Linked DNA regions of Homo sapiens. The protein of the gene in region 1 purifies or fractionates together with the protein of each later gene. This does not show direct contact. Each region holds a gene or a part of one and is shown on either strand. Other genes may lie near its edges.

The links.
Region 2: the proteins of SPMIP6 (region 1) and ACTR10 purify together in Homo sapiens (affinity purification with mass spectrometry, with the first as the bait; one large-scale study listed by BioGRID). This does not show direct contact.

Annotation. Positions count from the first base shown.
Region 1 is NC_000009.12:34,384,251-34,388,077, reverse strand, and holds part of SPMIP6 (sperm microtubule inner protein 6), read left to right. Parts: intron 1-2,296; coding exon 2,297-2,441; intron 2,442-3,827. UniProt on the Homo sapiens protein: May participate in intramanchette transport and midpiece formation of the sperm tail. May play a potential role in somatic cell proliferation.
Region 2 is NC_000014.9:58,231,003-58,233,823, reverse strand, and holds part of ACTR10 (actin-related protein 10), read right to left. Parts: intron 1,759-2,821; coding exon 1,557-1,758; intron 1-1,556. UniProt on the Homo sapiens protein: Part of the dynactin complex that activates the molecular motor dynein for ultra-processive transport along microtubules.

The DNA.
Region 1 (3,827 bases):
TGCTAAAGTCAGGAGACTAATTTTTGGCAAGGACCTCAGGACTGGGGATACCAATTGAGGACAGGGTACCATTTTGAAAACAAGTGAACCCCCATATACTGAATGCTAAAATCCCCAGCGCAATCTTCAGCACTAGATTCTCAGAACACTGGCAGCTAAGTCATTACCCTCAGGCCAAAGGTTGAAGGAGTCTTTTCTGAAGAATCTCATCAGCCAAGAGGAAAGACCTACAGATATTGACATTAGAGTTTGCAAAATATTGTCCAACGAGATCATCCTACAGTGATGCTGATGGTGGACAAAGCCTACACACAGCTCAAAGCCTTCAATAAGCTTTTATAATCTCCTACTTATCAACAGGAGCAGACAAAGAGGAAACATCTGAGGAAAGCATCTAACAGAAAAATTGACGATGTCTATGAATTCTTCTAAATGACTGTTTTGTTTGTGTGTGTGTGTATCTGTGTTTAGTGTGTAAGTGGGTGTATCTGAGTGTGTATGTATGAATATACACCTATATGTGCATCTATGGGTGTATCTGGGTACACAGGGGTGTGTGTGTGTGTGTAAAGCTCGGAGAAATGCTGAGTCACGGGACCCATGCACCCACATCTCCCATATTCTGCCCGCCACCCACGTAGAAGTGTGACTGTGCAGGAGCTGCTCACAGAACAATGTCAGCTGGGCACAGTTGATCCCAGAAGCCCCTGAGCAGAGAGGTTTTGAGGATGGTTGGAGCACTTGGAGCAACCAGGTCTCAGCCTTGGCCAAGAGAAGGGCCAGGTGTGGTGGCTCATGCCTGTAATCCCAGCACTTTGGGAAGTCAAGGTGGGAAGATCCCTTGAGTCCAGGAGTTCAAGACCAGCCTGGGCAACATGGTGAAACTCCATCTCTATGAAAAATACCAGGTGTGGTGCACATGCCTGGGAGGCTGAGGCGGGAGGATCACTTGAGCCTGGGAGGTTAGGGCTTCAGCCATGATGGTATCACTGCACTTCAGCCTGGGTGGCAGAGTGAGACTTTGTCTCAAAAAAAAAAAAAAAAAAATCATAAGGATCAAGTGTGGGTGATAGCATCACTGTCCCAGCACCTCACTGCCCGTTATGAGGAAGAAGCCCTATCTGACTTTGCTGGGTGTCCCACCCCTGTGACCCAGCTGCCTTTTCAGACCAGCTGCCTGCAGATACCTGTGGGTCTACAACTAACTTGTCATTCAGCCCTCAGCTGAGGAAAAAGGGGCCCCGAAGGGAGGCCCTGATCCAGGCGTCACAGATCTAGTCAGACAAGAAGTGACAGGGTAAGTTGAGGTGAACCCCAAAAAGCACAGGGGCCCAGGGCCTGGACCAAGAACAGGAAAAGTGTCAAGGTAGGGTGAGGACCAGGCCAAATTGAAGGTCAGGGTCAAAGGCAACACTGGTGTCAGGGCCAGAGCCACAGCAGAATCAGGGCCAGGTTGCAGTCAGGAAATTACTTTTTTTTTTTTTTTTTTTGAGACGAAGTCTTGCTCTGTCGCCAGACTGGAGTGCAGTGGCACGATCTCAGCTCACTGCAACCTCTCCCTCCTGGGTTGATTCTCCTGCCTCAGCCTCCCGAGTAGCTGGGACTATAGGAGCTCGCCACCATGCCCAGCTAATTTTTGTATTTTTAGTAGAGACGGGATTTCACCATGTTAGCCAGGATAGTCTCCATCTCTTGATCTCGTGATCCGCCTGCCTCGGCCTCCCAAAGGGCTAGGATTACAGGTGTGAGTCACCACGCCCAGCCGGGAATTACATTTTAAAGTAGGTGCCCCTCCAGCACTGTCCTTCATTTTCTTTAAGATGCTAGATTCCCAGAGAGCCTTTCCTGTCCAAGACACCTACATAAGGCAGCCAGCTCCCAGGGTAGCCCTCTTTTCTGAGACTGGGGCCTGATGCACTGTTGGCAGAGACCCAGCCCTGCTCCCAGGCAGCATACAGTCTAGGAGAAAAAGGACAGGTATATGTAGCTCTGACCTTCATGAGCTCCCCACCAGGAAATGGCAGAAATGAGAAAGTCAGAAAACTACTCTGACGTAAGGCCACCGCTCGGCCCCAAGCCCTAGCCTTGGATGAAAAGAAAGGAGGAAAGGGTAATTCAGACAAGAGCACTGTGCAGAGGAGCCAAGGCTAGCATGGGAATCCCTCTGACATGGGGAGGGGGGTTGGGAGACCCACCTGGGCTGACCTTCTCAAGAGAGGCTGGATCTAGTTCCAGCAAGACCCCAGGGCTGGGGTCTCTGTGCCCCTAACCACTTCTCTCCTCTCCCCTTGCCCAGGGTCTGACTCATACCATGGAGCGACATGTGGATCCCGAAGCCCTGCAGAAGATGGCCAAATGTGCTGTACAGGACTACACTTATAGGGGGTCCATATCAGGCCACCCCTACTTGCCTGAGAAGTACTGGCTTTCTCAAGAGGAAGGTAAGGCCTCACCCTTTGCTGACCCCTAAAATGACCCCCAACCTGAACCCAACCACCTGGATCGTGACCTCTATCCTTTTTTTTTTTTTTTTTTTTTTTTTGAGACGGAGTTTCGCTCTTGTTGCCCAGTCTGGGTGCAATGGCATGATCTCGGCTCACTGCAACCCACTTCCACCTCCCAGGTTCAAGTGATTTTCCTACCTTAGCCTCCTGAGTAGCTGGGACTACAGGCATGTGCCACCAGGCCCGGCTAATTTTTGTATTTTCAGTAGAGATGGGGTTTCACCATGTTGGCCAGGCTGGTCTCGAACTTCTGACCTCAGGTGATCTGCCCGCCTCGGCCTCCCAAAATGCTGGGATTACAGGCCTGAGCCACCATGCCCAGCCTCCATCCTGATTCTATGTCAACTTTATCTCCACCCATGACCTAGATTTCTTCCCTAACCACCCCCTCCACCAACCACCTGACCTGACCCTGGCCCTGGAGGAGATGACCTAGGCCCTGCTTTTTGGGGTTCTTGTCGGTGGAAAAAAAAACCTGGAAGGGCCCTGGGTCCCATCCTTAGCGAGTTGGAGAAAGGATTAACCTCCCACAGACAGATCCCTCCAAGTGCATTCCAGATACCATCTCCTCCCATCTTCCCAGCCATCCTGCTCCCATCAGCTCCCTCCACCTCTCCTGCATCCCTCTGCCCCACCACACCTCTTTCCCTCAACCTGGAACCTTCTCTAGTTTCTTCCCAACTAAAAATTATCTCTTGCTCCTGTTCTCAACAGCCTAGGTTCTCGGAAACATGGTCCATACTCACTGTCTCTATTTCCTCACCCTTTCTTATACCTTATGAGAAACTGTCTTTCTCATTTGCTTGGATATAATATAATCTGTCTGGCTGTACATTCGAAAAGAGCCGAGTCTGGTCTTATTCACAGCTGTGCCCCTCCATCGAGCACAGCACCAGGCTTCATAAGTCTTTGTTGAATGGACTGAGAATTCCCAATGGAAGTTGGGAATGTGCATCTCCTATGATGAAACAATAAATTGCTCTTGCATGGCTCTGATTACCAAATCCACAGGACTCTGCAGTCTTTACCCTCTGAGACCTTTACCCTCCTAGACCAATGAATTGCACTCTTCTGACCACTCTCTACTCGTTTTGTTGTTGATGTTGTTTTGTATGTTAATCCTCCAGCACACAGGCTATGACCACACTCTACTTCTTGAAACAACTTCCTCCTCAGCTTCTCTGATGCCTCCCTTTCCTGTGCATCCACTGTGGAAACATGGGGTTCCTCAGGGTGTTATCCTGCACCCTCTTCTCCCCTTGCTCCTCCTCCAAGGCCATTTGATTTAACACAAGCCTTTAATTACTGACAGCTTCAAATCCT
Region 2 (2,821 bases), on another chromosome or scaffold:
TCATTTTAAAATGTCATACTACTCTTTCTCTAAATGCACAATCCTGATACCTTCTAGCTCTAACTGCATCATAAAACACATATCAGAACCTGTATAAATGTACATATTCATGATTGTTTTTCCCTTCAAAGTAGTTACAGCTGATCCTTGAACAATGCAGGGATTAGGGGTGTGGACCCCCAAGCAGTTGAAAATCCATGTATAATTTTTGACTCCCCGAAAACTTAACTACCAATAGTCTACTGTTGACTGAGAAGTCTTACCAATAACATGAATAGTCGATTAACACATAAACAGCCCAGTATCTGTATATATATTTTTATACATTCATGATGTATCTTTTTCTTAATTTTTTTGATATTTCTAGGCTACATGGTTTGTCTATGTTTTTTCAAATTGTTGCAAATCTCCAAAATTTTTCTAGCATATTTCCTAAAAAACAGCATATGAGTGGACCCACATAATTCAAACCCATGTTGTTCAAGGGTCAACTGTACTTATTAGGTTAATTGCTTATTTCAGTGAAACCATCACTACTTAAAACATTTAATGAACTCAGTCACAAATATACTCATAAATTAAAGAGGCCAATTTTCATATGTGGCTCACTAGCTTTAGAAGACATTAAAATGAACATTTTAAGAAATGGTAAGCCAGGGGCGGTGGCTCACACCTGTAATCCCAGCACTTTGGGAGGCAGAGGCGGGCGGATCACCTGAGGTCAGGAGTTTGAGACCAGCCTGACCAACATGGAGAAACCCTGTCTCTACTAAAGATACAAAAAACTTAGCCAGGCGTGGTGGCGGGCGCCTATAATCCCAGCTACTAGGGAGGCTGAGGCAGGAGGATTGCTTGAGCCTGGGAGGCAGAGGTTGCGGTGAGCTGGGATCACGCTATAGCACTCCAGCTGGACGGGCAACAAAGATGAAACGTCTCAAAAAAAAAAAAAAAGAAAGAAAGAAATGGTAGCATCACTGGAATAAATTCATAGCTTTCACTATTTTGAGGGATGACTTTAACTAAATGAGAACGTTTACTTAATATCACGGTGCAAATGCCAAGAGAAATAGGTATAAAATTCTGAAAATTAATACAATTTAAGAAAAAGTCAGCTGGGCATGGTGGTTCATGCCTGTAATCCCAGCACTTTGGGAGGCCAAGGTGGGTGGATCACGAGGTCAAGAGATCGAGACCATCCTGGCCAACATGGTGAAACCCCGTCTCTACTAAAAATACAAAAATTAGCTGGGCGTGGTGGTGCACGCCTGCAGTCCCAGCTAGTCAGGAGGCTGAGGCAGCAGAATTGCTTGAACCCGGGAGGCGGAAGCTGCAGTGAGCCGAGATCGCACCACCACTGCACTCCAGCCTGGCGACAGAGTGAGACTCCGTCTCAAAAAAAAAAAAAAAAAAAAAAAAAAAGAAAAAGTCAGTGTTAGTTCTATTTATAAAGTGGGCAATTCTGAACCCTGAATTATTTATTCTAATATATCCATTAATAGTGTCATTCAGAGACCAAATACTATATAATCATTATATTTTAAAAGTGAAATTCTTACCTCCCAACCAGGCCACACAATTAGCTTTTGCAGGTGGAGTATGAATTCGAAATGTCTTAGTGCCAAGTGCTTTTTTATATTTTGGTTTTTCTACCAAATACCTTATTTCTGCAAGCAATCTGTGGAGAAATCCTGGCAACATAGAAGTGCCACCTATGACTACCAAATTCTCTGCTAGTTGCTTCCTGGTGTCTATCGGACACTGTTATTAAAAAGAAAAAAAGAAGGATTTATTCTGAACTGTACAAATAATGCTTGATTGAACTTAAGAAAATATACATAAATATACTATTATTATACATATTATTATTATACTACAGATTAAACAGGTGATCGTTTGTATCGCAAAAAGGGCCACAGCAAGGTTTCTTTCATGTAGCAAATATAACCACCATAAACATACTGCCAAATATATACATAAACTTTAAAGATTTTAAAATAGTTTAAAGTCTAAAAGCATAGAATTTTACATTCCATAGGGCATATGTGAGTGTTCTCACTGTCAGGGTAGCAATGATTAAGTAGGGCAAAGAGCATGAGAAGAAATAACTTCTCTTTTTTGGGATAAGTGAAATATGTAGAAATTTAATTTTTCTAAGGTGTATTCACAGTGCCAGTTGTTAAGTGGGAAGATAACACTCCTAGAAAAATTATGGTTCTACATCAGTTCTCTTTAAGAGTTAGCGATGATAAGGTCCTTCAATGAATGGAGCCCTAGAGGTAAACATATCTTCCAAGGCAATGGTATTTCATGCGAAGTCCTATAATTACATAGTCATTAAACGAAAGAGACATATTATTACCATATGTCCTGTGGAATTTAAAATTGAATACTATACAACCCTGAATTGGAAGGAACCACAAGCCACACTAGGTACAAAATAAAAATCTGGTCCCTGGTCTTAAAAGAATGCACATGTCACTGGGTTTGGTGGCTCACGCCTGTACAGCCCTTTGGGAGGCCGAGACAGGTGGATTACCTGAGGTCGGGAGTTCAAGACCAGCCTGACCAACATGGAGAAACCCCATCTCTACCAAAAATACAAAATTAGCCAGGCATGGTGGCACATGCCTGTAATCCCAGCTACTCGGGAAGCTGAGGCAGGATACTCACTTGAACCCGGGGGCGGAGGTTGTGCTGAGCTGAGATCATGCCATTGCACTCCAGCCTGGGCAACAAGAGCAACACTGTCAAAAAAAGAGAAAAAAAAGGCCAGGTGCGGTGGCTCACGCTTGTAATCCCAGCACTTTGGGAGGCCGAGGCG